Linked DNA regions of Homo sapiens. The protein of the gene in region 5 purifies or fractionates together with the protein of the main gene of each other region. This does not show direct contact. Each region holds a gene or a part of one and is shown on either strand. Other genes may lie near its edges. The genes, in order: CHRM4, LPAR1, FBXL16, HPN and HPF1.

Region 1 (5,751 bases), on a different chromosome or scaffold from region 5:
CCCCTAGTAGTCTGGCCTCCTCGCCCGCACAACCCTTCACCCACAGGCCAGGTGCAATCCCGATGCAGGCTCCTGGCCCGACCCTCTACGCGCTCAGGCGGACAGCTAAGGTCTGGCTGAGTCTCCGGCAGGGGCGTTTGGAATGTGACCGGTCACCCACTCTCGGCCCTGCATTTGCTTGTGCATGCAAGTCCACAGGTGTAGAGGCACCCGAACCGTGTGCATCCTCCCGGCCACAGCACCCTAGGCACGCACACGCATGCACATGCACGTGTGCACACGGCGCGGCATGCTCACGCGCTCTCACGGGCGGACTGGTATCCAGGCGTGGCCGTGCGCACACACACGCACATGCATACAGCTACTAGCGTCTACTCGCGCTCCCCCGTAGGCACACACAAACAGAACTCGCACTCGCGCTCCCGCCCACACGTTCCTCGCAGGGTGCCGGGTGGAATCCGGGCTCCCTCAACTTTCCCACCCGAGAACCCCGCGCGGAGCCGAGGGCAGCTCTGGGGCGGCGTCCGACGGGGCCTGGCGAGGGGACCCCGCGTCACTTCCCCGGGAGGCTGTGCCTGAGGGCTCCTCTGGGTTCGCAGTCGCATTGGAGTTGGGGGCGGTGGCCAACGGCGGCCGCACGGTCTAGGTCCGGAGCGGGCACCAGGGACCGACATTGCCATCTAGCGGTGCGCACAGCCCCGGCGGCGGCGGCTCGCTCCCCAGATGCCAGGCGTATCTGGATTCCAGGGAAGGCGCCAGAGGGGGTCGGAATGTCTGCGGGTGACCCCGAGGTGTCCAAAACGACGACAGCTGGGGCGGGGCGGAGTCGGGGAGACCCTGAGCCTCGCCCTGTCAGCACCTGGCAGCTCCCTCACGCGGGCCAAGAGCAGGACTTAATCACCGGCCATCCAGTGGTCCCGGCTCAGCCCAGCCGCCAGGATCTGGGAGAAGACAAGACATCGCTTGTCTTCTGGGAAAGCTAAGTCGAGAAGCCAGCAGGAATGTGAGGGGACCCTACCCAAGCCTCACCTGGACAGTCCCTCAGTTGTGTGGTTTTCGGGTCGAGGGGAGCAGAGGCAGGAGGTCAACTCTGAGCAGTAGCACCTTGGACTTTAAGAAGGAGCTTCCCGGGTTCTTCTGCCCCCACCCGTACTTCCTAACCTGGTGACTTTGGGCCAGTTGATTAACATTATCCTCATCTATAAGAGGATATTTACATCTGTAAGATGAGGACACTAATAATACCTGCCTTTTCAGGCTGTTGTAAGGATTAAACCAGATAATCTATATTAAAAGCTCAGAGGGGTTCCTGACACGCAGTTAACACTCAATAAACAAGAGCTATTATGTTTTCACATTCTGCACTTCTAGCCCCGTTTGTTATCATCCTGCTGCCCTGTATCCTGCCTTGGGAGGCTGAAGTGAGTTTCCTTGGGGCTGGCTGACTGATTACTCCTGCCTGCCCTGTCCCCTCCTCCACGTGAGTGATTGGGGGAGGGCAGCCTCCTGGTGCTGGAGGGGACAGCTCAGAGAGTGACACCTGAGCTTCTATTTCAGAGGCTCTCAGAGCCAAATGGGGTTGTCAGGGACCCCAAGAGAGGGCAGTATGTGGTCTTTGCCCTTGACTCGTTGTGTGACCTTGGGGGTGACAACACTTGCTCTCAGCCTCTCCTCCTACGAACCAAGGATTTAGAACAGGAGAACTTGAACTATCAGGCTAGGAGGCTGGGTCTGTATCTGCGACGGTGGAATAGAAGGGCTGGGGTCAGACTTGGGGCAGTTACCCTGGCCCTTGGCCCCAGCCTGCAGTACATTTTTGTGTTTATGTATAGAGATCAAGTTTAGGTGCCAATCCCTATAGCTGCTGGGGAGGATGTCCCAGGACAGGATCCTCTCTATTCTGCAAATGAGAAAGAGGTGCAGGAAGGGGCAGTGGATCGTCTCAGGCCACAGAGCCAGAGCCCAGGCTGCGGGTTAGTGCTCCTTCCTCCACAGCCGGCTGCCGCGCCCTCTCTTCCTCTCACACACAGACGCACAGAACTGCGTATCCGACCATGCCTGCTGGGCTGGCGTGGCTGTGATGGGCCCGCGTGCGTCTGTGGAGCGGTGTGTGTGTTGGCGGGTGTGAAGGAGGCTGGGCTGAGCGGCTGCCCTGGCACTCAGAGCTGGCGTGGGCCTCCCTCACATGGAGGGAAGAGGAAGAGGGGGAGGAGAGCTAAGAGGAGCCTGGTGGGAGGGAGGGCAGGCTCAGGGAAGGGCCTGTGGTGGGGACTCCAGCTAGGGCGCCGCCCGGTGTGCGGAGTGGACTGTGGAGGGGAGAGGCGGCCCTGGCAGCCCTTCTCTTCCCTCTGGGACAATTCTTTCACCTCACGGGTCCCCAGTTGGGCCTCAGGGTTCTCTGACAACCTAGTGACCCCTGCACTGCCTCCCTCCCAGCTGCATGCCCTGTGGCTGGAGCTGAGGACTCCTTGAAGGGGATGTGACAGTTGCAGGTACCTCCTGAAGCCCCTTCTGCAGGGACTCTCCTCCTCTCTGGGGTGCCCAGCTCCATGCACCGCCTCTGGTCCCCTGCAAAGCCTTCTGGCTCCTGGAGCTCTTTGGCCTCCTTCAGCCAGAGCTCTTAAGTTACGGGACTGCCTTCCTCTCACCACCTCACCCCGCACTTAATCCCACCAGCAACATAGTGCAAGAAGCCGTGAAACCTTGGTCAGGCTTTTAACAGCTCCGTGCCTCAGTTTCCCCATCTGTAAGTAGTAGAGAAAAAATGGTATCTACCTCATAGGTTTGTTATGAGGATGAAATGAGTTAACACTATAAAAAATGTTGCCAGGCATGATGGCGCCTGGAGTCCCAGCTACTCAGGAGGTGAGAGGATGGCTTGAGCTCAAGAGTTCTAGACCAGCCTGGACAACATACCAAGACCCTGTCTCTACAAATAAATAGATAAATAAATAGACACTTTTTTTAAGTGTCAAAAGTGCTTGGCACTTAGTAGACCATCAGTGTTAGGTGCTCATACATACCCCGATTATTGCCTTTGTCCCAGTGTCTTCTACAGGGGTTGGAGAGCAGGTGTTAAGAAATGACCGAATGGGTAAATGGATGAACAGAACACCTCCCTCCAGAGCCCACATGCTCGTGGGCCTCTGGGACCACTCTCCTCCTCCTCTTGCTTCCCTGAGCTCCCCCAGCACTGGCCTCTGTCCAGGCCTTGCGCTGCCTCCAGGCCTTTGCTGTGGCTACTGCCCCTGGCAGGGCCACTCTCCACAGCTCCTCCTGTGGCTGGCTCCTCATCACCCAGATGACCTGGTGGGTGAGGCCACCTAGCAAGGAGTCATGCCTGTCCTGCCTTCTGACTCACTCTCTCATCACCCTGCCTTTTTTTTCTTTTGTGGCTCACGTGTTTGCATGTCTCCCCCCATGAGGCAGGGGGCCATGTGTGTCTTATTCACTTCTGTAGCCACAGCACCCTGAGCAATGCTTGCCACATAGTAGGTGCTCAATTAATGTTGAATGAATGGGCAAATGCGGGATGGCGGGACAGAGTTCTCTCAAGGCATTCTGCCAGAGAATGTCCCTCTGTCACCTTGAATCCAGTGTACCTCCAGATGACTCCCCCATTCCCTCCTGTAGTTCATGCTTTTCTCTCCCCTTCCTCCCCAGACACGGCCTACCCACCCCTGGCAACCAACATGGCCAACTTCACACCTGTCAATGGCAGCTCGGGCAATCAGTCCGTGCGCCTGGTCACGTCATCATCCCACAATCGCTATGAGACGGTGGAAATGGTCTTCATTGCCACAGTGACAGGCTCCCTGAGCCTGGTGACTGTCGTGGGCAACATCCTGGTGATGCTGTCCATCAAGGTCAACAGGCAGCTGCAGACAGTCAACAACTACTTCCTCTTCAGCCTGGCGTGTGCTGATCTCATCATAGGCGCCTTCTCCATGAACCTCTACACCGTGTACATCATCAAGGGCTACTGGCCCCTGGGCGCCGTGGTCTGCGACCTGTGGCTGGCCCTGGACTACGTGGTGAGCAACGCCTCCGTCATGAACCTTCTCATCATCAGCTTTGACCGCTACTTCTGCGTCACCAAGCCTCTCACCTACCCTGCCCGGCGCACCACCAAGATGGCAGGCCTCATGATTGCTGCTGCCTGGGTACTGTCCTTCGTGCTCTGGGCGCCTGCCATCTTGTTCTGGCAGTTTGTGGTGGGTAAGCGGACGGTGCCCGACAACCAGTGCTTCATCCAGTTCCTGTCCAACCCAGCAGTGACCTTTGGCACAGCCATTGCTGCCTTCTACCTGCCTGTGGTCATCATGACGGTGCTGTACATCCACATCTCCCTGGCCAGTCGCAGCCGAGTCCACAAGCACCGGCCCGAGGGCCCGAAGGAGAAGAAAGCCAAGACGCTGGCCTTCCTCAAGAGCCCACTAATGAAGCAGAGCGTCAAGAAGCCCCCGCCCGGGGAGGCCGCCCGGGAGGAGCTGCGCAATGGCAAGCTGGAGGAGGCCCCCCCGCCAGCGCTGCCACCGCCACCGCGCCCCGTGGCTGATAAGGACACTTCCAATGAGTCCAGCTCAGGCAGTGCCACCCAGAACACCAAGGAACGCCCAGCCACAGAGCTGTCCACCACAGAGGCCACCACGCCCGCCATGCCCGCCCCTCCCCTGCAGCCGCGGGCCCTCAACCCAGCCTCCAGATGGTCCAAGATCCAGATTGTGACGAAGCAGACAGGCAATGAGTGTGTGACAGCCATTGAGATTGTGCCTGCCACGCCGGCTGGCATGCGCCCTGCGGCCAACGTGGCCCGCAAGTTCGCCAGCATCGCTCGCAACCAGGTGCGCAAGAAGCGGCAGATGGCGGCCCGGGAGCGCAAAGTGACACGAACGATCTTTGCCATTCTGCTAGCCTTCATCCTCACCTGGACGCCCTACAACGTCATGGTCCTGGTGAACACCTTCTGCCAGAGCTGCATCCCTGACACGGTGTGGTCCATTGGCTACTGGCTCTGCTACGTCAACAGCACCATCAACCCTGCCTGCTATGCTCTGTGCAACGCCACCTTTAAAAAGACCTTCCGGCACCTGCTGCTGTGCCAGTATCGGAACATCGGCACTGCCAGGTAGGCAGGCAGGAGTGCCCTAGGAGGTGCTGGTGTTGCGTGCGTGTGCTGGGGGGACCACACGGCTCACTTGCTGTGGGGAAGAGTTGCAGGCACCATTCTGCGTTCACGTTTGCTGAGGAGGAAGTTCAGAAGAGGCTCTGTGGCTGCATTCAGAGACCAGATCTCTGCTCAGGCTGAGGAGGCTCACCCCAGGGAGTGTCTGAACTGGGGCTGCCTGGCCCACCTCTGTGGCCCTGCTTCAGCGAGCTGCGGGGCACTGGCCTGGGTGGGCACCTGCCCCACTGTGACCAACCATCAGCAGTGCTGGAAGAATGGACATCTGGATGGGGGCCGAAGCCCAGGGCCCCCTCAGGAAGAACAAAGGGGCCAGTGCTTGGAAAAGGAGGCTTGGGAAGGGAGTAGAAGGGTGGGGTCCCCCATTCTGCTGTAATCGGTGCTTTCTGCCCCCTTGCACCCCGCATGTAGGCTCAGCCCCCTCTCCCCAAATCCCACTCCAGGGGCAGAAATCTCCTCTGGCTGCAGCTACTTAGCCAGGTTCTGGGTGGGTATGATGGAGGCCAGGTCCCCCCCGCCCCAGCAGCACTGCCCTTGTCACATTAAGATGGGGCAGCTGGGAGGTC
Region 2 (6,507 bases), on a different chromosome or scaffold from region 5:
ACATCCTGCCCATTCTCTTATTCTTGCTACTTTTCTCAAAAAGGCTACGGTCCATTTAATTTCTGTTTCCTATATTACAATCTTATTCCCATCTTTCTTCACCAAATACCTTCACCTATCACCGTGACGGGGTTTTCCATGTTCTGAAAGTTCTTCCATCTCACAGCTTTAAAAATCATGCTCTTTATTCCAGAGATGTCAACTGCATTCGATCTTTGTGGAGTATACTAGTTTAAATATTATTTCTGTTATTTTAAAGTTAGTGGTTGTGCAGTGGTAGTAGTTGGGCATGGGAAAGTGGCATTTAGGGCAAATGTACACTGAAACACTAGCTCCTATAGCCTCAAAATGATTATTTCAACCTGAAAAACAACCCAAAGAGGCACAAAAGTATGTGAATCATTCAGTACATTGCACACTGGAATACACAAGATATTATACAAAGGTCAAAATTAAAACAAGAACTTGGCAGGTTAATAGTCCAAGTTCAGTAGTCATTTGCTGCTGGCAATTCTGCAAACTATGAGTAGCACTTGTCGTAATAGAAAAAGTTCATGCATATAAAAAATGTCAACCAACATTTAGGTCATCAGCAAATAAATATTTGAGTCAATACAGGAAAAAAGTCTCATGTTATTTAATGTCTCATGTTTTATTTCATACAAAAATAGCATCCATGGTAAACAAAGATGTGTTTTATCCACATCATGGAAAATGTGGCCTTGTGGCACAGGTGTGCTTAAGGTCCTGTTAATAAACATACAGAGAAACCATTTTTGTAGTTCTACTAATCTTCATTGGATGCAATAAGACAATCTCATATCTGAGGTGATGGGGTCCTCAGTGTTTCAGTTAGTTAGGCAGGGTTTTAGGTGTGTCAGTGATCCCAAGGCTTAGTTGCTATTCTCACAGGTCTACAAGAGGGTCAACAATGAGTATAGCTGAAAATGATGTCCATGATGCAGTCATCCTAACCAAAACAGACGAGACCTATGCATCAATCTGAATACTACTTTATATAATGATCAGCAGGACCCTGTCTCCTTCCAGTGGCTAAAATTAAGGTAATTCCCAGAGTTTCAGAGGAGCCACATAATCCCATGTTACATTCACCCAAAAATGCTATATAAATTGGAGCACAGAGAATTATAGGAACTTTCCATTGAATTTCTGTGGGGAAAGAGGAGGTGATAAAATGTTTTTTTTCAATTTCCATAGGGAAAGATGAAATGATAAAAGGTTTTCAAAAAAGATTTTTTAATGTGATCAAACGTTAACCTGAATATAGTCTATGGAGAATGTATAATTCCATTGGGTAATTATTTTAAAAAACTCTCACTCTACTCTCAGCTCCAAAGGAAATGTCTGTATCTGTCCTTTTCATGGAGCCAGCACAGAGCGTAGAACATAGTAGGTGCTCTTTAACTACCTTCTACACACATAAGTGAATATATTCTTCTTGATCACTACTATGAATTTTTCATCCAAGAAAAACAATGCTTATTTAAAAGCAGAAGGTATTTGAGTCTACAAATCTTGCTCTTCACCTTGAAATATGAATTAACCTCCACTACTACAAATAGAAAATTAATAGAAAATAAGGAAGTTTTCATGAAGATGACTGTCAGAGAATATCATTAATTCCAATCTGTTTTGTTCAGTAAATCTATATAAAACCTTGATATACTACCTATAATGTAGCAACAATTACAGAATAGACTAACAAAAATAACTATATATGGAAGCATATTCATATTCTACAAAAGCACTTTCTGTCTGAAAATATGTAATACAGAAACCACAATGCAAAAGTTTCACAATTTAGGCTGTAAGAAAAATGAATGAGTTTGACTGGTAATTCTGGTATTTTCAATATTAGATAGCCAAACTCTTCAATGACATCTTTTACATCATCATCATTTATACTGCACCACTGGGACCCATGTTTCCCTAACGCTAATTCTATAATTTTAGGAAGACTCATAAGCTGACATTTAATATAAAGGTGCCTCATCCCCTTGTAATTCCTGGTGAATTACCTGGTGAATATTCATACTGTTGGTTACCTCTGACATAAAATAATGTGGTTTATGTTAGTCACTGAGAATCTATAAAGTAAGTTACAGTCAAGACAGAACTTACCAAGCACAATGACCACAGTCTTCAGAAGACTCATCATGGTATCCCGATTCCGCCGGGGTCCAGAACTATGCCGAGACATTCTCATAGTCCTCTGGCGAACATAGCCAAAGATGTGAGCATAGAGAACCACCATTACCACAAAGGTCACCAAGTTGAAAATGGCCCAGAAGACTAAGTAAGAGTCACTGTAGAGGGGTGCCATGTTGGAACAATTTTCAATATCACAGATACAGTTCCAGCCCACACTGGGTATAGCACCCATAACGATGGCCATAGTCCAGATGACCACAATGACCACCACTACCCGCCGGTTGCTCATCCGTGTGTGGAGCTGCATGCGGAAAACCGTAATGTGCCTCTCGATTGCAATAGCCAGTAAGTTGGCCACAGATGCCGTCAGGCTGGTGTCAATGAGGCCCTGACGAAGGAGCCATGTGCTAACAGTCAGTCTCCGAGTATTGGGTCCTGTGTTGAACATGAGATAGAAGTAGGCCAACCCAGCAAAGAAGTCTGCAGCAGCCAGATTAGCCATTAGGTAATAAATAGGAAAATGGAAGCGGCGGTTGACATAGATTGCCACCATGACCAATAGGTTGGCCAACATGATGAAGATACAAACAGTGATTCCAAGTCCCATCACCAGCTTGCTGACTGTGTTCCATTCTGTGGCAAGATGCTTTCCACTTCGGTTATAAAAGAAGGCAATGGACTCGTTGTAGAAGCACTGTGGTTCATTCATGGCTGTGAACTAAAAGAAAAAGGAGAAAAGATGATGAAAAAGAAGGCACAGGTCCAAATTTAAAGCTTATATAGATAACACAAGACTTTTATAGTACATGCAACAGAAAAACAAAAGCAAATAATTTGAACATTTGATCCTGCATACCATCTTGTGATTATGTTGAAACTCCAAGGTTTCTCACAATATTACTGTCCTTAAGATTAAAGGCAGTTGGAGTTAAATAAATGACAAGGTCTCTGCTTAGTGGTTTTATGTCATTGAAGTCTACTACAAAAGCCACATGGCCAAGAAATCTTGCTTAAAATACATGAGACAGACAAAAATTTTGCAGAACATTGCAATTGGAATATTTACCATAGTAAAATCTATTTGACCTGTTATTTAGGGAATCTGTAAACACAGTTGGTTTCTAGATAGGGTATCATTGCCCTATTATTCTGCATTTCTATTCTCACACAGTATGTTCCATGTGGGACAGACATTTTGTAATGCAGGTTCCCACAAGGACCATCATTCCAAACATTTCAAACAAGTCACTGTGCATCAAAGGTTTTTTGCCCAAAGCCAGCATTTGCTGCTCAACATTCCTGTGGTCAGCACTGCCTACCCCCACAACTCCTTAAGTTCAGAATAGGACTTGTCAACCAATCTATGACATTTGAGAATTTTTTTTCTTTTTGGAGGACCCAACGTAACCTCCAAAGAGTAGGTGACCCTTTGACAATGTTCTACAAGTAAAATATACTTAGATTAGATGCAGCATATTTTTTAAAGTGTGGAGTGAAAATGCTTTATAACATGTTTACTTATTCTTCAACATCATTGATAAGAATATATTTGCTTATTATTTACAATATTTATAATAATCACTTTAAAAAGGATTGAGACAGTTTAAAACAGAATAATATATGTTTATTTATCTATCATAATATATAATATATAATTATATATAATTATAATATGTAATTATATATAATAATATATTTAAACAAAATTAGAAAATAAGTAACAAACTAGAAATTAGAAAAGTATACATCACATAGAGTAAGTCATTCTTCTTGAAGCTCTAAGTTTACCTGGGACCCCTAAAATTAAAAAATATATCTTGAAGACGGTTCACATTCTACTTTTTCATTTTTATTTTGCTTTGAATCTAATAAATTACCCAAAACATATGACACTTTTAACCACTATTTTTGATCAAATATTCTACTGAATATCCATAGGTTGTACACTAAAACTTCCAAGAACAACGTGAAATACTTAAGTGGTTAGTCTTCTGACTTACCCAGGCATCTAAAGTCTCTTTCCTTATCTAGACTTTAATAGCTTTTAGATTATGCTTCAAATATTATACTTAATACATTGTATAATTATTTATCTCTTTACTTGTCTGCTTCTTAAAGAGATCACAGTCCAGGGCACAGTGGCTCACATCTGTAATCCCAGCACTTTGGGAGGCCAAAGTGGGTGGATCACTTGAGGTCAGAAGTTCGAGACCAGCCTGGCCAACATGGTGAAACCCCCTCTCTACTAAAAATACAGAAATTAGTCAGACATGGTGGTGGGCACCTGTAATCCCAGCTACTCAGGAGGCTGAAGCAGGAGAATCGCTTGAACCCGGGAGGTGGAGGTTGCAGTGAGCCAAGATCATGCCACTGCACTCCAGCCTGAGTAACAAAGCAAGACCCCAACTCCATCTCAAAAAAAAAAAAAAAAAAGACAAAGTTGATCAAGCTGTTTCCCCACTGGACATGTTTTAAGGGCTTATGAGTGCACGTTAGATAAAAGTCTAAACTTTTCAATCATCTTATCAGACCTTACTTACCTGCCTCTCCAGCCTCAACTCAAGATATTAATGACTCCAAACTCTCAGCTTCAGCTCTATTTAATGTGCTGTGCTCTCTCTCTCAACTCTGGTTCTCAACAGTGAAAACAGTGGTTTCTTGTATCAGAATTACCTGAGAGTTTGTAAAACACTGATTGCTGACATAACCCGCAAGAACTTCTGATTCAGTAGATCTGAGGTAGGGTCCCAAGTAATGCCAAGGCTGCTGGTCCAGGGAATCACTGTATCATAATTGCTTAATTATCTGTTGATCCCCTCTACACTAGGCTATGAAACCCTATAAACGCAGAGATTCTAGCTTGCTTATTCATTGTTGTATAGTATCCAACTGTTCTATGGACTACATGCTAAATACATATTGATTTCCTTAATAAATTAAAGATATTTCCAAAAATGTTTAAACTTTACAAATTTTCTTTCTGCAAAGGATATTTAAAACTTTGTCAAGACAAATATAAAAGTCTGTTCTTTTCATTAGTCTCTATAACCATCTACCTTCTCTGAATCAAGAAATGTTTAAACCAAATATCAAGCGTATATTATTTCCCAGCATTCCAACTTCTGAACACCAAGTAGCAACAAAGTTAAGCAGAGATATATGCAGCTTCTTAGCCCTTCCCACAGAGAAAAACGATAAAGTTAAGGATGGCAAAATTAAGAAGTATAAATTATCTCTTTAAGCCACAATGTACAAAGATGAGTAAAACTGACAGATTTTCTCTAAAGGTAGAGAAAAGTGCCCTGTCCTATGCCATTTCTTTTCTCTCAACAATTGACTGTAATACCATAAAAACCATACATATTTAATGATAAAACTTAAATGATTTTCGAAACTCAATTTTATCATCTGTGAAATGAGGAAATTGGACTAACTTATACATAAGGTCTAGTTCAGATTTAAAATCCTATACTAAGAGGATTCTGGATAAGAACGCTATATTTCATGAAAATTAGCAGCTAAATATTGAAAGAGTAGAAAATACACCAGGAATTAAAAATTGGGAGGGTATAATATGCCTGAGAAGAAGTGAGAGGAATTTCAGTTAGTTTTATGACAATAGGACTGAACTGATAGAGGAATTAAACCTCCTCTCTTATTGTCTGCAGAAAGCAACAGGTCAAAAGAATAAGCAGTGGAGACCCTGAAAGCACCTCCAATGGCAGTAAGAAGGGCAGTGTGAATGGGCTTTCCTACTTCTTCAGGAGCCGACAGACTTAGGCAGAAAACCTACATGGTTCAGAGAGAATCCAATTTAACTGCAATTGGACTATAGGCCAATAAGATAGTCAGGGCTATAATGACAGAAAAATAATTATGGAACATAATGGGGAAAAATGTAATCAAAGGAGGTGGCCACTTATCTCTCGCCAAAGAAGAAATCACCTCCCACTGAAGCAGATGTATGGGAGGGGAAAAAAAGAAGAGATAGAAAGAGAAAAAGATTAAATGATGGGACATCTCTGATTTGTGTCCTCAATGTGTTTTGTTAACATAGTAACATTGAAAATAGAACAAGCCATTATGAAGACAAAAGAAATCAGTAAAAACATCACAAAAATAGTTTTTTATTGCTACTTTAACAAATTGCTATAAATTTAGCAGCATAAATATACAAATTTATTCTCTTACAGTCCTAGAGGTCAGAAGTCCAAAATAGGTCTCACAGGACTAAAATCACCGGGAAGGCAAAGCTCTGTTTCTTTCCAGGAGCTCTAGGGGAGAATCCGTTTCCTTGTCTTTTCCAACTTCTAGAGGCTGCCCACATCTCTTGGC
Region 3 (6,507 bases), on a different chromosome or scaffold from region 5:
CCTTGAGTTCAGCCCCTCCATCGACAGACTCACTGCCTCCAGCTCACACCCACTTCCGGGGCGGCTGGACGAGTCCTACCTCCCACTGATGAGAAGGACACAAACAGCTTCCTGTGTGGGAGGCACGGGGCCCTTGAACCAGCTGGACATGGACCCAGGAAGCCTTGTGTTGCTGAGAGTTAGGGATCTCCCACCCAGGTGGCACTGTTCAGCCACCCGAAGACCCCATCTCCTTGCATGTGGGCACCCACTGCTGTGCCTCCCATGACTGGATTGGCAGTGAAGGGAGCTCTGTGGGTGAGCAGGTGACTGAGCCTTCCCCACCAGTGGTGCAGGAGGAGTCAACGGCCAAACTGGCTGCAATGTGTGGGTTCAGGCCTCATTCCTTCACTGGGCAGGAAAGAGGGGTGATGGTTAGTGGCAGCTGCCTGGAGCAGTAGGCACTAGGGGCCCAGGCCTCGCCTCTGAGGGTGCTCATGCTCTTCCGAGCAGGGGCTGAGATGAGGCCTGGATCCCAGCACCCACTCCCCAGGGTGTCCAGCTTTCAAGGCTGAGCTGCCCTGGGCTTGACCATGGGCCCTCAGTCTGCTGGGGCAGCAACACGGGTTTCTCTTGAGGCCACGTGCCTGCTGCGCCATGGTGCCCCTCCTCAGAGCCCCTGGTGCACCCCCAGAAGCATCTCAAACTGGGGGCGGGAGAGGAGCTCTGCCGCTGTGCCACGTGCCAAGTGGCAGGGACGCGGGTGTGCCTGCGTCACGGGGCTGCCACGGAATGTGTCAGTCTGCACCCTGTCCCCAATCCCCAGCCACCCCAGCTGTCAGCCAGGCTCTGGGGCTGCCACTGCAGATGGAGCCCGATGTGCATTTCTCTGGCCACCAGGGCCCTGCCCAGCTCTAAGGCCCTCTGCAGGCAGGGCTCAATGGTCCCTGAGGTTCTATGAGGGCTGAGTGGTTGGTTAGGCTGTGCCCCAGTCTGGTGCTGACAGAGATGGGGGCACCAGAGATGGGGGAAGAGACCTTCAAACTGGGGGCGCTGAGGGGTGAGGAGGTTTCCCAGGCATGTGTCCAAAAGGATGTCCCAGGGGTGGGCACGCGGTGTGCAGCCTCTGCAAGGAATGCAGCGCCGTGGCAGGGACCCTGCAGGATGAGGGCAGTACTTGGAGAGACCACTAGCCCAGGGCCCAGCAGGAAGGCATCGAGACCCCATGAGGCAGAACAGGGCAGAGCGAGGACCCTGTGAGGTACACCTGGCAGGACCCAGGTAGAGGGAATCAGCCAGCCCCGGGGCTTTTGGAGCCAATCCTAGCTCTATGTAACTTCTGGAAAATCCGTCTGCAAGCTCTGCTTCCCCACTCCTAGTTAGGCAGTGTGTGAAGGAAGGACTCTGGCCGGTCAGAGGAGGGGTGCGTGTGGTGCCAGGGAGAGCGGGGCAGGAGGACCCCCTTCCCTCTCTTGGCTCAGGCCAGATGGTGGAGGACGGGCAGCCACTTCCTCAGCCCTGCAGCTCCTGAAGAGAGAGCCAGCTGAAAAGGAGATGGGCCCTCCTCATCCGAAGGCTCTGTGTATTGCAAGGCCCACCCCAGCCCTGGGGTCTTGGGAGCCCTCTCAGTGACTCAGGTACCAACCTAGTCCCAACCCCAGAGGCCACTCTCCCCGCGGACACTGGCCATGGCACGATCCGGGTTAATTTCCCGAGCTGTGCCTTCCCCGCTGACCGGCCTCTTCCTAAATTTGACCAATCCTCCATCAGCCCTCCGGGGGCCTTGGCAGCTGCACCCCTTTCTGCGTGACTGAGCTAGCGGAGCCACATTCCGCATTCATTCATTCGTTCCCTAATTCATTCATTCCGCGAACATGCAGAGGCCATGCACGTTGGTGCTGTCTGTCCTCAAGAGTCCTCAGGCCAGGAGGAGAGACACCAGGTGGACAGTGATGATAACCCATGTGATTGCAAGACCCTGGAGACGCTTTCTCAAGAGCTGGGGGTCCCGGAGCAGGAGGCAGGGGCGACCTCGCACCAGGAACTGAGGGATGGAGGAGAAGAGCTTGCAGGGCTAAGGCAGGGAAACCCTGCCAGGCAAGCAGGGGGAACGGCGTGTGCCCAGGCAGAGGAGCAGGGGAGGAGGAATGGCATGGCTGGGCTGTGGCATCAGGGCTGGGAAGGGGCCGGAGCTGAGGTCTCCGGGCTCAGTGACTTGATTCGCAGAAGAGGCAGCTCCTGCGGGGCCCCCACATGGCCGTCTGGGAATGGTCAGCCTGGATGCTGTACATGTACATGTGGGGACCCCCAGGAGCACCCAGGCCCCACCGTGCTCCCTAGGCTCACTCTGGCCACACGCTTCACACTGCGTCCCCTGGGGAGGACACAGAGGCCACGGCCACCTCTCCCCAGCAGCTCCCAGGCCAGGCTCAGGCTGCTGAGGACAAGACAGCTGAGGTGGGGCCACCTCTCTCTCTTTCCCCTGGGGTGAGCCCCGGAGCCTTGACAGGATTCCACTTCAAGCTGAGCCAGCACCACAGGGGCTGAGGCTGAGGATGGTGCAGGCATGGCCACCTTTTTAACAAGTCTCTTCCCCGTATTAGCACCCGGGCTGCTTGTCCCTAAAGGGAGAGGCAGTCCCTAGCAGCCCACGCAGGTCGTCCGAGCCCCTCTGGGTGGAACGAGGGCTCTCACAGTCGCCAAGCAGGAAAGGGGGCTCTGTGAGCCATGGGAACCGGCTCCTTGGTGACCGTCTGGCTGGGTGGGTGGGGCCGGGCCCAGGGCCAAGCAGAGGGGCCCTTGTGTGAGCCCCCAGGGACTTCTCGCTGAACGGGCAGAGAGACCCCAGTCTCCAGTTGAGCTCAGCTTTCTCCCGCAGCGCCCATGCCTGGGCCAAAGTGTGTGGCTGTTTGCATTTTTGAGCTACGGGGTGGGGGATATTCGGGCTGAGTCAGTCAAGCCGGGAGTGTGAGGAGCAGCGGGGGCCGGCAGGAACGTGGACGCGAGATTGGGGAGCAGTGGGGCTGCCTGTGCGGGGATGCAGCTCCCACCAAGCACACGGGTCGAGGGCTGACCACAGGCAGAGCAGCGCCTTCTGGCAGCGCTGCGGGTGTGGATGAGGGAAGCCAGGCCCCGGACCCATACCCAGACGGCCGCTCCTCAGCCTGTCCCCTCCCTCCTGTGGGCTCTCAAAGTGCGGCTTGGTTTCTCCATCTCGACCCTGAGGCCTGGAGGTGGGGACGGGACTGTGGGCGCCGGCAAACGTGAGCTCCCGAGCGGGGCGGGAAAGGAGCCCCGCGAATGCCTCCCCCAGCCCCGGCGCTCCACGTGCAGGCCCATGACTGGGAGCGTTTTCAACCTAAATCGGCACTGCGCCGGGATTATTCCTCCCCTGGCGCCGCCCCCGCCGCCTCCTCCGGATCCTTCCCGGCTTCTCCCCCACTCTTCGCCCCCGGGGCCCCTCCCTGCTGAGCGGGGGCTGCCGGGATTTGGGATTGCGGGGCTGCCCCGACCCCGCAGCCGTCCGCGGTGGAAGCCAGCCCGGGCCTGGCCCTGAGCGCGCGGCTGGGGCGGCCGCTGTCCATGGTGCTGGCGCGGGTGGCGCGCCGGCCGGCGGGGTCTGCGGAGGCCCAGGCGTCCCTGGCGGGGAAGGCGGCGCTTCCGGGTCTGGGGAGCGAGGGTCCCCGCTCTAGGGGCACGGAGGATATTTAGACTGGGGCGCCCGTGGGCCTGGTGCTGCCGCCTCGGGCGCCGGCATCCTGCGATATCCCCTCTCCCCGGCTCTGGGAGGGAACCGAGGCAGCCCCGCGCCAGGCCTCCCCGGACACCTGGGGCAAATTCGCTCCTCAGAGCCTCGTGTTCCTTCCCCAAACCTGAGGTAGCGACCCCTCCACCCCTAAGGGCGGCCGTGAGGTCGAATCATGTGCCGACCCCAGCCGGCCCTTGCAAACGTTGTGATGTCGGCCTCCGGAGGCCGCGCCTTCTGATCATGGGCACATGATGGGGGTCACCGGCTGTGGGTGCCTCCTCTGTGGAGGGCCCGGCCTCACCTTCCAGGACCCGAATGATACTCTGGGGAGGGGGAGATGGTACAGAGGGTGGAGCTGGGGCTCCTGCCATTAGGGCAGGAAGGACTTTAAACCCAAAGCTGGGTTCTCAGCCACGAGGGCCACGTGTTCTGGCGAGACCCCTGGTCCCGGCTCCGGTCTACACCCCCTCCCCAGATGTGGACCGGTGGCAAGGCTGGCCCTGTCTGGGGCTTGGAAGCCAGTGTGGGGACCTGCTGCTGGGAAGAGCGGGGCAGGACCTCCCACTGCCTCCCTGCCTCCCTGCCTCCCCTCCCCCCTGACCAGATTATGGGGAATGGGCTGCGGGCCTTGGGGTTGCAGTGCCGTCCGAGACCCCGCCACTCTCTGTGGTGGAGCAGGCCAGGCCCTGTAGCCCCAGAAGGGACACTCAGCCAAAAAGATGTGAGCCATCCTCTTCCTGAGAGTCTGCATATTGCAGGGCCCACCCCAAGCGTTGGAATCTTCGTGGGAGACTCTCAGACACCCCCTTGGTGGCTCCAAGAGACCTTCCAGTGAGGCTGTGGCAGGAGGGGGCAGGGTGGGCTGGGAGAGGCTTTGGCCCCTCCTCTGAGATTTTGGGGCAGGAAGGCAGGACCTGCATGAGGCTCCAGGCTTAGTCCTGGAGTCACCTAAGACCGGGGAAGATGCATCTTGCTTTGCCCTGGAGTGTGGCCGTGGGGCTCAGACATCACTCTCCCAGACCTTGCTATGAGCCACGCACTGAGCTCGTTCACTTTGCAATGCCCCAAGGGAGCAGGTACCGTCACCTCCCCAGGCTTCAAGGTGAGGAAATTGAGGCTCAGAGAAGGGAAGTGGCTTGCCAAGACCACAGAGCCAGGGTGGGGCCCATTTCAAGTCCAGGGCGTGTGACCCCAGGGGCTCTACCTCCTCCCCGGATGTCGGGGTGGGGGCGGCAGGAGATCCGAACTGTGGAGCAGATGGTGGCACAGTGAGGGTCCCACCTCTGCTTCTTTCCGTGGCTGTGCCCAGTGCCCCCTGCCACCCACTTACAGACTGGAGGCCTGAGGAGGGTGCCCGGGACTGCTCCCACTCCACCCTGTGCGTGGATGTCGCTGGCCTGAAGATAACCTCCGCATGGCCTTCCTCAGCCAGCTCTGCCCGAACTTTGGCTTCACCACTTATCTGGCCATGACCTCGGGCAGGCAGTTTGCCCAGCCTTGGCCTCAGTTTCCTCATCTGTGCAGTGGGTACAGCTATCACAGCATCGTTCTCATTGGGCAGAAGATTAAAGCGACAGCTTGTGTCCAGGGCTAACCATGCTGGCACCACAGCACACCCTGGGAAGATGCCCGCCCTTTCTTTGCATGGATTCTTTTTTCTTTTTCTTTTCTTTTTTTCTTTTTCTTTCTTTCTTTCTTTTTTTTTTTTTTTTTTTGAGACAAAGTCTCACTCTGTTCCCCAGGCTGGAGTACAGTGGTGTGATCTCGGCTCGCTGCAACCTCCGCCTCCTGGATTCAAGTGATTCTCCTGCCTCAGCCTCCCAAGTAGCTGGGATTACAGGAGCCTGCCACCAAGCCCGGCTAATTTTTGTATTTTTAGTAGAGAAGGGGTTTCACCATGTTGGCCAGGTGGTCTCAAACCCCTGACCTTGTAATCCACCCACCTCAGCCTCCCAAAGTGCTAGAATTACAGGCATCAGCCACTGCACCCAGCCCCTTGGGTAGATTCTGAGCCAGGGAAGCTCCTGTGCATGTGGAGGGTGGCTGCAGAGTCAGCACCAGAGCCCCTCCTGAGCGCTGTGCAGTCACCCTGCAGGGGAGGGGCCAGAGGCCACCCCAGACCCTTCCCTTCAGTTCCCCTGGCCTGCCCAGAGGGGTGGGCCTGGTGGGTACCTACAGTGGACGGCACAGCAGAGAGGTCAAGAGAGCAGTCCTGGCCTCACCAGGTCCACCTCCATTTTCTTCTCTGTAAAATGGCCATCATGGTACCTAAGTGCTAAAAAGTGTCGGCGTTTCTTCGCCTCACTGGGCAAACAAAAAGGTTTCCGGTCAGGCACGGTGGCTCATTCCCATAATCCCAGGACTTTGGGAGGCTGAGGCGGGTGGATCACTTGAGGTCAGGAGTTTGAGACCAGCCTGACCAACATGGAGAAACCCCATCTCTACTAAAAATACAAAATTAGCCGGGTGTGGTGGTGGGCGCCCGAATTCCCAGCTACACGGGAGGCTGAGGCAGGAGAATCACTTGAACCTACGAGGCAGAGAGGTTGCGGGGAGCCAAGATCCTGTCTCTGCACTCCAGTCTGCGCTCCAGGCAACAAGAGTGAAACTGTTTCTTTTTTTTTTTTTTGAGACAGAGTCTTGCTCAGTTGCCCAGGCTGGAGTGCAGTGGCGCAATCTCGGCTCACTGCAAGCTCCGCCTCCCGGGTTCACGTCATTCTCCTGCTGCAGCCTCCCAAGTAGCTGGTACTACAGGCGCCTGCCACCATGCCCAGCTAATT
Region 4 (6,507 bases), on a different chromosome or scaffold from region 5:
TGGCAATAAGGGGAATGATCTCGAGGGAGCACAAAGTGGGCCTTAACTATCAATGATCAGTGCAGCCAATTTGGAAAATTTGCCAGCATTTCCCCAAGAAGTATACATAAAGTTACCATTGGACCCAACACTTCCACTCCCAGGACAGGAGGTATATACCTAAGACAAATGGAAACTGTGTCTGCACCAAAACTCGTACATCAGTGTTCATAGCAGCATTATTCATAATAGCCCAAAGATGGAAACAGCCCAAGACTGTTTCATCGGACAAATGCATAAAGAAAATGTGGTATATTGACCGGGCGCGGTGGCTCATGCCTGTAATCCCAGCACTTTGGGAGGCCGAGGTGGGTGGATCACGAGGTCAGGAGTTTGAAACCAGCCTGGCCAACATGGTGAAACTCCATCTCTACTAAAAATACAAAAATTAGCCTGGCCAACATGGTGAAACTCCATCTCTACTAAAAATACAAAAATTAGCCTGGCCAACATGGTGAAACTCCATCTCTACTAAAAATACAAAAATTAGCCTGGCGTGGTGGCACACGCCTGTAATCCCAGCTACTCGGGAGGATGAGGCAGGAGAATCTCTTGAACCCGGGAGGTGGAGATTGCAGTGAGCCGAGATCACACCACTGCACTCCAGCCTGGCTGACAGAGCAAGGCTCTGTCATCTTGAAAATAAATAAATAAATAACAAAAAAAATGTGGTATATCCACACAACGGGAGAATATTGGACCATAGAAATGAATGAGGTACTGATTCATGCTACCACAAGGATGAAACTTGAGAACAGTGCTGAATGAGACAAGCCAGCCGCAAAGGCCACATACTGTAGGATGCCACTTGTATGAAATGTACAAGGCTGGGCACGGTGGCTCACGCCTGTAATCCTGGCACTCTGGGCAGCTGAGATGGGAGGATTGTTTGTGCTCAGGAGTTTAAGACCAGCCTGGGCAACATAGCAAGACCCCATCACTTAAAAAAATGAGCTAGGTGTGGTGACGGATACCTGTAGTTCCAGTTACTCAGGAGGCTAAGGCAGGAGGATCACTTGAGCCCAGGAGTTTGAGGCTGCAGTGGGCTAGGATTGTGCCACTGTACTCCAGCCTGGGTAACAGAGCAAAACCTTGTCTGTTAAAAAAAGAAGAAAGAAAGAAAGAGAAAGAAAAGAAAGGAAGGAAGGAAGAAAAGAAGAAAAGAAAAGGAAAGAAAGAAAAGAAATGTCTAGAATAGGCACATCGGTAGAGATAGAAAGTTGATTGATGGTGGCAGGGTGGGAGGTGGGGATGGGAGATTGGGAGGTGACTGGTGAAGGACACAAGGTTTCTTGTCTGGGTGATGAAAGATTCTAAGTCGATCATGATCATGGTTGCACTTGTCTGTGACTACACAAAAAGCCAGTGACTTGTGCCTTTAAAAGGAATTGTCTAATATGTGAATAGTAGTTCAATCAAGCTGTTACCAAAAAACTAATAAAATGAAAAGAAAATGTGTTAAAAATGAATGAATCAGACTTAGAAAGTAAGTTAGGAGTCATTCCCTCTGCAATTCCCTGGAGTATTCCCTTGGTCTTACTGAGACTCACTTAGGTGCCAACATGTCCTTAACACCTCTCCAACACATACATCTTCCTTTTGGATTAAAAGCAGGCCCTGGGCTTCAGATTTCAGCAGGCTGCAGTGTAATAATAATAATAAAAATAGGCTGGGCATGTAATCCCAGGCCAAGGTGGGGGTATCGCTTGAGCTCAGGAGTTCAAGACTCGCCTGGGCAACATGGCAAAACCCCATCTCTACAAACAAAAAAAATTAGCTGGCTGTGGTGGTGCGCGCCTGTGGTCCCAGCTACTTGGGAGGCGGAGGCAGGAGAATCACCTGATCACCCAGGAGATCAAGGCTGCAGTGAGCCATGATCACACCACTGCATTCCAGCCTGGTTGATAGAGCGAGACCCTGTCTCAGAACATAATAATAATAACGGTGATAATGATGATCATGAAGTAGTAATAGCGAGTAGTATTCGAGTTCATGATTGAGTATTCGAGTATAGCGAGTTCATGATCATGAAGTAGTAAAAGGGAATAAGGGAGTACATGATGAGTGTACACAACACAGTAAAATAATCTGGTAAACATAGCAGTGTGCCAGGCACCATTCCAAATATGTCCTGTGTATGGACTCACTTAGTTCTCACAGCAACCCCAGCACACCCTGGTAAGGAGGGTTCTCTTAAGATCCTGTTTTCCACCCAGGAAAAGGTCCCAACCCAAAGAAGGCAAACAATGCCCCAAATTCGTACAGCTGGTGAACGGCAAAGATTTGTGCCCAGGTGGACTGGCACTGGAATCTGTGCTTGTGGCCCCCACGCTGTGGTGACGGAGAATCCAGGGCCATGTTGGGGTTGGCATTATGTTTATTTTTATGTTTATTTTATTTTTCATGATCTGTGGTACTGGTTTCCCATTGAAGGGAGTGATACATGCTTTTCTTTAAAACCAAACCCTGTCCTGACATGGTGGCTCACGCCTGTAATCCCAGCACTTTGAGAGGCTGAAGCGGGCAGATCACTTGAGGTCGGGAGTTTGAGACCAGCCTGGCCAACGTGGTGAAACCCCATCTCTACTAAAAACACAAAAATTAGCCAGGTGTAGTGGCAGGCACCTGTAGTCTCAGCTACTCTGGAGGCAGAGGCAGGAGAATCACTTGAACCCAGGAGGTGGAGGTTGCAGTGAGCCAAGATCGTTGCCACACCCTTCTCCTTAGTGAAAAGAGTGAGAGAGTTAATATTGAAGTAAGGACGCATCTTTGAGGACAGGTGGACAGGTGGAAGCGGCTGGGATTTCAGACACAGGGCTGAGGGGGTCACAGCATGGGCTTTGGGGTCAGATTCAGATATTTGCCAACTGTGTGATCTTGGACACATGGCTTCACCTCACCGTGCCTCAGTTTCCCTTATCTGTAAAATGACTTCCTAGGGTTATTGAGACAATTAAAAGGGTTAATATGAGTAAAGAGCTTAGAGAACTGCCAGCACATAGTGAACACTGGTAAATGTTAGCAATTGCTACTATTGTTGTTTAATACTTTTACTAGTTATATGAACACTTGCTGTTTGCCTGGCATGCAACTCAATGACTCACCAATTTCTCACTACAACTTCTGGGGATAAGTGATTATTATTTCCATTCTACATCTGAGAGCTCTAAGACTCAGGCAGGTGATGTCATCAGCAGGCAGCAGGCAGCAGGCAACAGGCAGGGCTGCCAGGAACCCTTGCATAGGTTGTGCACTGCACAAGGACACCACATCTCAGGGTTACCACTCTCTCTGTAGACCTGTGTATTTATTATTATGATTTTCTGCTAGGTGGAAGTCAAATGTCTCAAGATAGGAGTGTCTCTCTCTCTCTCTCTCTCTTTCTTCTCTCTCTCTCTTTCTTTTTTTGAGACAGAGTCTTGCTCTGTCACCCAGGCTGGAGTGCAATGGCGCAATCTCGGCTCCCTGCAAACTCTGCCTCCTAGGTTCAAGCGATTCTCCTGCCTCAGCCTCCTGAGTAGCTGGGATTACAGGCACCTGCCATCTGTAATCCCAGTGCTTTGGGAGGCTGAGGCAGGAGGATTGCTTGAGCCCAGGAGGTCGAGGCTGCAGTGAGCCATGTTCCTGCCACTGCACTCTGGCCTGGGTGACACTGCAGGCTTAGAAATGAAAACAAGCTGTGTTAAAACATACATGTTATGAAACTTTGGACACGTGACTTGGCCTCATTTTCCCCCTCTCTAAAATGGGATAATATAGACCCTACCTCTCTGGGCTGATGAAACATTAAAGAAAATGGTGCAGGAAGGCGCCTAGTATGCGATGAGCTCTTGGTACGTGGCGACTTCCGTTGTGGCTTTTTTGTTTGTTTGTTTGTTTTTGAGACAGAGTCTTGCTCTGTCGCCCAGGCTGGAGTGCAATGACATGATCTCGGCTCACTGCAACCTCCACCTCCTGGGTTCAAGTGATTCTTCTGCCTCAGTCTCCCGAGTAGCTGGGATTACAGGTGCGTGCCACCATGCCCGGCTAATTTTTGTATTTTTAGTAGAGATGAGGTTTCGCCACGTTGGCCAGGCTGGTCTCAAACTCCTGACATCAAGTGATCCTCCTGCCTCGGCCTCCCAAAGTGCTGGGATTACAGGCATGAGCCACTGTGCCCAGCCTATTGTGGTTTTTTTTTTAAAGAACAGAGAGGGCAGGGTGTGTTAGGGGCCATGGTAGCAGCTGGACAGAGGTTTGTACCAGGTGGGGCAGGCCAGCGGGGGCTGGACCAGCATTGTCTCTCTCACAGAATACATCCAGCCTGTGTGCCTCCCAGCTGCCGGCCAGGCCCTGGTGGATGGCAAGATCTGTACCGTGACGGGCTGGGGCAACACGCAGTACTATGGTGAGTCCTGTCCTCTGCCTCTGATGCCACCGTTTGGGAGACTCTGAACTAGGCTGGGGATGGGCAGTCTGGCTGGTTGGATGAGTCTTGACCATGAGGAGTAGGGACGCTGAGGGGAATGGGGTGGGCACCAGGAGGGAAGGGGGGTGTGTACACCCCCCAGCTCTGGCCAGCCTTGCCTGCACACCCCCAGGCCAACAGGCCGGGGTACTCCAGGAGGCTCGAGTCCCCATAATCAGCAATGATGTCTGCAATGGCGCTGACTTCTATGGAAACCAGATCAAGCCCAAGATGTTCTGTGCTGGCTACCCCGAGGGTGGCATTGATGCCTGCCAGGTGAGGGACTCTGTAGGGGCAGCCCCCTGGTCGCTGCCACCCCAGGGATGGAGATGCAGGGGAGTGGGTGGTCAGGCTCCCCATCTAAAAGCCTGAGGGCTCTGGGGCCACAGCCCATGTCATCCCGGGGTGGGCCTCCTGTCCAACCACTTTGGCCTTCAGCCAGACCTCCCTCTCCCCTCCCAGGGCGACAGCGGTGGTCCCTTTGTGTGTGAGGACAGCATCTCTCGGACGCCACGTTGGCGGCTGTGTGGCATTGTGAGTTGGGGCACTGGCTGTGCCCTGGCCCAGAAGCCAGGCGTCTACACCAAAGTCAGTGACTTCCGGGAGTGGATCTTCCAGGCCATAAAGGTGAAAGTTGGGTCCAGATGGGAGCCAGGGTGGGGACGTTTGGGTGTCTAATGGGGGAAGGGAGGCAGAGATTTGTTTTAGGAAACCTACGCTCAGGCCTAGAAGAGGGCCCCCCTTGGGAACAGATGGACTTTGAAGGGTTCCTGGGGAAGGGAAGCCAGTGGTGGGACGTGGAAGCCTCTCAGACCTCGGGAGCCCCCAGCTGTCTTTCCCCAGACTCACTCCGAAGCCAGCGGCATGGTGACCCAGCTCTGACCGGTGGCTTCTCGCTGCGCAGCCTCCAGGGCCCGAGGTGATCCCGGTGGTGGGATCCACGCTGGGCCTAGGATGGGACGTTTTTCTTCTTGGGCCCGGTCCACAGGTCCAAGGACACCCTCCCTCCAGGGTCCTCTCTTCCACAGTGGCGGGCCCACTCAGCCCCGAGACCACCCAACCTCACCCTCCTGACCCCCATGTAAATATTGTTCTGCTGTCTGGGACTCCTGTCTAGGTGCCCCTGATGACGGGATGCTCTTTAAATAATAAAGATGGTTTTGATTAATGTGGCCTCCGAGCTTACAAATGTACACAGCAATGAGGACATTTTGTCAGGAAGGAAGAGAAGAATTAGGACCTGGCGCAAATCAGACAGAGAGTGTGGGTCCCTCAGTTCCCACTGATTTGAGATTTAAGATTTTAATTGGTTCACTTAACTGGAATTTTCCTGGAGCAAATTGGCTTCAGGTACAGCTGGATCCAGCTGCTCTCTCAAATCTGCCTTAGGCTGTGTTAGCTTCATTTCCAAGCAGCCTCTCCTACAACCAGAGAGAGAGATGTCCCCTTCCACACAAACTCTTTCCCAATCACTGCAGAAAAAGTCCCAGGCAACAACAACAAAAACCCAGGCCCAGCTCCCATTGTACAGATTTGGGTCACGTGCTCATCCCTTGGCAAATCACTGTGCACCGGATGTACGCGGTAGGGGTGGAGCGGGGTGGAGTGGGAGGCGCTAGGCCTTCAAGAATCGTGTGACCTGAGTGTGGGAGTCCCAAAGGAAATAGGGTGCTATTTCCAGAAGTGGAAATAGATGCTCAGTGAGCAAAAAAGACATCTACCTTGAACCAACACGGAAAACGGGGCCCTGTAAGGTGGAGATAGGGAGACGCTGGGAACACAGCCTGAGACCCTCCCCCAACCCCTTTCTCCATCTGGGCAGCTTCTGGGGAGGAACCCCCTTCTGTAGAGCCTCTGCAGAGCCTCATGCAGCCCCGATGGCCACCAGGGGGCACTGCTGCCCCAACATTGTGACACATTAAGGGGTTTCCTGCCTGGAGTCAGCCGCATGTTGCTGAAAACCTGCTGTTCTGCTGAAGAAAGGCTCAGCGGGGGAGCCTGTTCACCATGACTTTAAATAA
Region 5 (6,507 bases):
CCCAGCTACTTGGGAGGCTGAGGCAGGAGAACGGCGTGAACCCGGGAGGCAGAGCTTGCAGTGAACCGAGATCGCGCCACTGCACTCCAGCCTGGGCCACAGAGCAAGACTCCGTCTCAAAAAAATATATGTATATATTTTCAGGGACCAGGCATGGTGGTCCATGCCTGTAACCCCAGTACTTTTGGAAGCCGAGGTGGGCGGATCACTCAAGGTCAGGAGTTGGAGACCAACCTGGCCAACATAGTGAAACCCTGTCTCCACCAAAAATACAAAAATTAGCTGGGCATGGTGGCATGCACCTGTATTCACAGCTACCCGGGAGGCTGGGGTACGAGAACCACTTGAACCCGGGAGGTAGAGGTTGCAGCCATCCAGTCAGCCGAGATCGTGCCACTGCACTTCAGCCTAAGACTGCCTCAAAAAAAAAAACAAAAAACTGTCTTTTTTTCCGAGATGTTGTTTCATTCTTGTTGCCCAGGCTGGAGTGCAGTGGCAGGGTCTCAGCTCACTGCAACCTCCACCTCCCAGGTTCAAATGATTCTCCTGACTCAGCCTCCCGAGTAGCTGGGATTACAGGTACATGCCACCACGCCCAGCTAATTTTTGTATTTTTAGTGGAGACAGGGTTTCCTCATGTTGGTCAGGGTGGTCTCGAACTCCTGACCTCAGGTGATCCATCTGCCTTGGCCTCCCAAAGTGCTGGGATTACAGGCGTGAGCCACTGCCCCTGGCCTTTTTTTTTTTTTTTTTTTTTTTTTCATTTTTAAAGAGACAGGACACTATTATAACACTAAAGGTCGATAGATTTTTTTTTTAATGTTGAAGTTTGTGTTAAGAAAAATTTAGAAAACACAAAAGGAAAGCAAAGCTACTTTGTAAGCTTATACAAAAGCATAATCCAAAGTAGTTCTCAAAAGTATGTGAATATATATCATGTTAATGCCACTTATGGAAATAATTTTATATTTTGTCATAAACAGGTTAAGATTTTTGCCATCAATATAAAAGGTCAGGAGTAAAATGAAGAGCGGCAAGAGTGTGCCAGACTTCCAGGAAGAAGGCTGAGGGAGTAACAACTCCTAGGAAGAAACTCACTTCTATTCACTGCCAACATCTGAGAGTTTGTAGTATTCCCTGCAACACTGTTAGGGAGTTAGAACATTTATAGTGGGTGCTAGTCTTAGCTTCATTGTACTTATCAGGAAAAAAAAAAGGCACAGAGGATAGTCAACTTACCCAAGTTGAGAGAGCTAATAGATTAAACCCGTAGAGTTACCAGTAGAACTGGTAGATTAAAATGCCACAGAAACCCAAGCCATCAAAATCTAACTTCTGATTACAGCACACGGTTACACTAAATCTTACCTTCAATTATTACCAGCTGTATGTCTAGAGGGTATTTTTATATCAACCATAAAATACAGATTTGATCATGTCAGTCCTATGTGAATCAATCGATCTTTACAGTCTTCCTCAACACTCTGGCACGGCAATATAGCCATTCAAGTACCCTGTGCCACGTATTTTCACACTTTCACACACATACTGCTCCCTTACCTAAAACATCCTTCTTCCCATTCTTTCTAGTAAGTTCTTAGGCATCCATCAAAGCCCACATAAAATATCCTCTTTTACCTCTGCCACTATTGAAGGCACTTGGTAGCTGCCTTCCCATACATATGACATTATTATGACTATCTCTGTAAGTTTTTGTCTCTGCCGAAACCTACTCTAACACTTTACTGTGTGATGCTTAAAGATAAGGTGCGATGTGCAACTGAAGCCATAACCATGAACGTGAACATTTTGTGCTGTGACTTTAAATCCATTAGAATGTCTTCAACGCAAATGAATTTGTACCCATGCATGTTATATGGCATCATGCAATGGCCCTTTGGAAATAGTGGTTTACTAAGTTATATAGATGTAAGTGTTGAAACTTATATATCAAATTCATTACATAACATTATGAAAAAAAGCTATTGCGCTCACAGTGGTATTACAAGTTTCTCAATCTAATTTTTATTTGAAACCCTGAATTTTATCACTGACAAAAAATATAGTCAGTTGTTTTCTTTGGTTCATTTGAGAGAATTCCTGCCAGTAGCTAGACCCAAATAACCAGTTTGTCAATGAGTCACTCTTTTTTTTTTTTGCATTCCAATCTTGGGTTTATTCAACACAATTCTTCCACTCTACACAACAAAGTACAAACACAATGTCATCTAAAATGCTACAAAGGTATAAAACTCAAAGAGAAATTTTATAGTACTGACTGTACAATAAGAAAAAAAAAGAAAAGCAATGTACATGTTGCCAAGATAACCTGAAAGACCACCATGAAGGACAGGCACAACCATGGCTGCGGGATGACCCCACAGAGCTGGCTCTCAACTCACTCGCCAATTTCAGAGTAGGGTGGTGGGGTGGTGTGTGTGCATAGGTGCACGGACAGACAGAACCATGCACAGCAACTACCATGGGTGAGAGGATCTTTGGGGGTGTGTGACCCTTGAAGTCGGAAGAGGCCTCGAGAGGCCGGGCCTAACAGGGTTGGCAGCTGCACTAAACCCTGGGGCAGCTCCCTTTCCAAAAGGACACTGCCCAGCGACAGCAAGGGCACGGCCTGGCCACCATCCCAGGTCATCAGGGAAGGGAAAAGTGTGCTCCCAGGTAGGCAGGGTCAAAGCACCCCCAAGAGTCTTACTTGTCCCTGGTGGCTCTGCCACTGAACTGACTCTTAGAAACTGGAAATGGGTGAGCTTTCTAGCCAGAAAACCAGAGGGAATCTTGACAGGCACACAGTCAATGAGTCACTCTTTCTAAAAGTGGGGAAAAGTTCATCTCAAAATTCAATCATACAAGGGCTTTTTTTTCCCTTGAGACAAACCACAGTACTTCAGTATGAGAAATGCTTTCTATGTATTTCCTATTTCATCACAGAATGTTAAAGAGATGAACTCAATGGTAGACATCTAATACATGTATACTCCAACACTGACATTTTTCAGGCACAGGGTCTTGCTATGTCGTTTAGGATGAACTTGAACTCCTGGGCTCGAGCAATGCTCCCACCTCAACATCCCGAGTAGCCACCATGCCTGGCTCCATCACAAACATTTTTAAATACATTTGCATGTTACTGCTGTGAATAATGCAATGACTGCTGCTACCCTGGTGGCACTATCTTGATTCCTGCCAAGGTGACAACAGTATTATCCACTATTTACTTTGTGCCATTGGTGCAAAAATAACATTTTATTATCACAAATAGTTTTGACCTTAAGGGTCCCTGACCCAAGGTCAAAACTGTTTACCCCAGTTATTTTAGGAAAATAAATAAGGCAGAAGGAAAAAAAAAATCATTCCTTTGTTGTTCAAAGTTATTTAAGAATTATGTTTACTTCCATATGCATTAGACAGTATGAAATGGAATCATTCTACACTATTGTTATTTGCCCACTTCATAACAAATTCAACAAATCAATACCAAAGTATTATAGTATATGGATAGTTTATATTTACCTAATCTTCCCTATTGCTGGATATGTTGCCAATTTTTCATTTGATAAACAATCTGTAATACACATATTTCTGTACCTGTCCAAAATCCCTTTAATAAACAGCTAGAAGTGAAATTGCTAACTTAAGGGTATAAATGTGTACTTCACATAGTACCTGACAATGTCACCTATTAAGAAATCTTAGAATATGCTTTCTAAGTTAACATTTTTCAAATGTTAACATTAAACATTTTTCAAACTGCTTTCTACAAAAGTTTTACCAATTAACACATCAGTAAGGGTTCTTATACCCTAACCATCATTGGTTATTACCATTCTTTAACCTTTAAAAAAAATCTTTGCTGGTTAAATTGGCATTTCTTTAGTTACTATTAAATCTTGCAGACACAAGATTTAATAATAACTAAAGATAAAAATGTGTTGATCAAAGGTATGCCTTGAAAGACCTTATTCAGTCTGCCATAAAAATAAATTTTAAAATATATAAAGAAATTAAGTGTTCTGGTTAGCTGATTTAAGGAGGTAGTACCTAAAAAACTAAAACCGTTATAATACTTTAAAAGTACTAAAATAGTTATATCTCAAGTAATTTTTTACCCCTGTTTGAGATAAATTATTGGAGGTAGTTCCTCAAATACTCACTTGCTGATCTTCACCTAAGTTATAAATATCACCCATGCATTTTTTTTTTCTTTTTCATTGTCTATGTTCTCCAATTAGCTTAAAAAAAAAAAAAGATACCAGAAGAGTCTTGGGTTATGTTACATGACCACTATTATGTTATCTTTTTTTAAAAAAAAAAAAAAACATGACTAATAACACAAATGAAAAGTTAGGCTTGTTTTTCGAAAAAGAGACAGTCTCACTATGTTGCCCAGCCTGAAAAAATTAGGTGTTTTTACATGCCAAGGTATTTATAGAATTAATATTTATGGAGCATCTAGTATGGGGCAGATACTCTGCCCTCGTGGAACTTAACATGCTAGTGCAAGAGACAGACAATAAGCAAGAAAACAACAAGAGTTTCTAATAAAGATGGCACCAATTTAAATTGAATGATAAATCCAAAGAGTTTAAAAGAAGTTATAAATTACAAATACCAAGTAACATTTTATAGGAAACTGAGAGGTATTAGAAAAGAAAGAACATTTTTGGACATCTACAATGTAGCTGCCTTGTAGATACACCAGTATGTACGTAGCATAGTCTAGTGGTTGTAGTAGGGTGATTTAGTTTGAATTCACTTTACTGCAAATTTGTATGATCAAATCACAGGGAACAACAGCCCTTTAAAGAGACAGTACTAAAAGAGGTCAAAGAAAAGATAATCTACTTGTATTTGAAGTGATAAAGTTTGCTTTCTTCATTACAATGCAAACTACACAGCTGCTGACAAATAAAATGGCTTCAAGTCATGTCTGTGGCTGATATAGCACAGACTGGCTCACTCACCTCTATTCCAACCCCTTCCCCATGAAAGTTCACTGCATTTCCCATACTACTCTTTAGCTCAGGCTCCACATGGGACCTATCTTCTTCCAAGCAGCTGCAATACTTTGAAATCTCAGAGGCAGAAGAGATACCACATGGAGGCTGTGCTTCCACGATCTCCATCAATGAGCACAGCTGTAGAGGCATCTGATGGTTCTGCAGCAGCTGTAGCTGAGATCCCAGCACCTGGTTCTTAGCTTCACGGGGGCTGAGAGGCAAAGAGTAGGGCATCCATTTACCTGGCCCAGATTATACCAAAGATAATGTGGTCCTAGAGCCACTCACTGTGGCAGCAGTTCTCGAATTCCCAGCTCCCTGATGGTGGCAGAGACAAAATCCACTGTGAGCCACACAACTGTCATTCCTGGAAGCTCAGCCTGCTCCCTCAACCCTTCCAAGGATATAATGACCACCTCTTTTTACTTTATTAAGCCTTTCTGTTTGAACCATACATAAGAAATAAACTCTTAACAGGTGTTTAAAATCAGATGTCTAACAAAACTGTTGATGTTGCCATGGAACACCTGAGGTCAAGTATTATTTTCGTTAAGTAAAATAGTTACATAAGAGGTGTATTTTTTTGGTGAAGAGGCACAAAATAACAGTATAGATAAGACTACCTGCAAAAGTCATGGAAATTATCTCTAGAAATCTACAATTATGGGCTTGTCTCAAATCCGCTTTGTTTTTTTTTTTGGAGATAGAGTCTCACTCTGTCACTCAGGCTGCAATGCAGTGGCGCAATCTCGGCTCACTGCAACCTCCGCCTCCTGTGTTCAAGCAATTCTCCTGACTCAGCCTCCTGAGTAGCTGGGATTACAGGTGTGTGCCACCATGCCTCCAGCTAATTTTTGTATTTTTAGTAGAGATGGGGTATACCCATGTTGTCCAGGCTGGTCTCGAACCCCTGACCTAAGCGATCTGCCCACCTCGGCCTCCCAAAGTGCTGGAATTACAGGTGTAAGCCACTGTGCCCAGCCCCTCAAACCCCCTTTGTAATGGACTAATGTAGTATAAACATTGTAAACAAATATAAATTAAAATATTCTTACTTGACTGCAGCAAATACATTATCTCCATTTGGAACAATTATACAATTTTTCTTTGCTTCATTTATACCAACATATACAGGAAATTCATCAGGAGAATCCCTGTGTAAGCAAAAGACATTAAAAATTTAGCTGCCCATAATTTATATTATCAGGCAAGTGGGATTTCAGGTCTACAGACAACAATTTACACCTATTTTTTTTCCTTTTTGGAGGCCTTTTTTTTTTTTTAATCATACCAGAATTTATCGATTACATCAAACAAAAATTTCTGTAATGGAAAAGGCAAGTTGCAGTCATAAAAGATGGCATTCACATTCATTTTAGAAAGCAACAACGTAGATGTAAAAAATTGTTTAAGTGAAAAATGTAATATTGCAGTCCCATTTTGCAAGCTGAAAAATTTTGTCAACACACATAAAATCTGCACATTTACATAC

What was found.
Region 1: the proteins of HPF1 (region 5) and CHRM4 purify together in Homo sapiens (co-immunoprecipitation; one large-scale study listed by IntAct). This does not show direct contact.
Region 2: the proteins of HPF1 (region 5) and LPAR1 purify together in Homo sapiens (co-immunoprecipitation; one large-scale study listed by IntAct). This does not show direct contact.
Region 3: the proteins of HPF1 (region 5) and FBXL16 purify together in Homo sapiens (co-immunoprecipitation; one large-scale study listed by IntAct). This does not show direct contact.
Region 4: the proteins of HPF1 (region 5) and HPN purify together in Homo sapiens (co-immunoprecipitation; one large-scale study listed by IntAct). This does not show direct contact.

The regions. Positions count from the first base shown.
Region 1 is NC_000011.10:46,384,499-46,390,249, reverse strand, and holds part of CHRM4 (muscarinic acetylcholine receptor M4), read left to right. Parts: intron 1-3,663; 5' UTR 3,664-3,692; coding exon 3,693-5,132; 3' UTR 5,133-5,751. UniProt on the Homo sapiens protein: The muscarinic acetylcholine receptor mediates various cellular responses, including inhibition of adenylate cyclase, breakdown of phosphoinositides and modulation of potassium channels through the action of G proteins.
Region 2 is NC_000009.12:110,939,279-110,945,785, forward strand, and holds part of LPAR1 (lysophosphatidic acid receptor 1), read right to left. Parts: intron 2,891-6,507; coding exon 2,143-2,890; coding exon of another isoform or gene 2,063-2,142; exon of another isoform or gene 634-2,062; intron 1-633.
Region 3 is NC_000016.10:697,849-704,355, reverse strand, and holds part of FBXL16 (F-box/LRR-repeat protein 16), read left to right. Parts: intron 1-6,507. UniProt on the Homo sapiens protein: Substrate-recognition component of the SCF (SKP1-CUL1-F-box protein)-type E3 ubiquitin ligase complex.
Region 4 is NC_000019.10:35,060,920-35,067,426, forward strand, and holds the end of HPN (serine protease hepsin precursor), read left to right. Parts: intron 1-4,330; coding exon 4,331-4,426; intron 4,427-4,619; coding exon 4,620-4,762; intron 4,763-4,948; coding exon 4,949-5,113; coding exon of another isoform or gene 5,114-5,164; exon of another isoform or gene 5,165-5,323; intron 5,324-5,329; coding exon 5,330-5,368; 3' UTR 5,369-5,654; downstream 5,655-6,507. UniProt on the Homo sapiens protein: Serine protease that cleaves extracellular substrates, and contributes to the proteolytic processing of growth factors, such as HGF and MST1/HGFL. Plays a role in cell growth and maintenance of cell morphology.
Region 5 is NC_000004.12:169,742,674-169,749,180, forward strand, and holds part of HPF1 (histone PARylation factor 1), read right to left. Parts: intron 6,170-6,507; coding exon 6,071-6,169; intron 1-6,070. UniProt on the Homo sapiens protein: Cofactor for serine ADP-ribosylation that confers serine specificity on PARP1 and PARP2 and plays a key role in DNA damage response.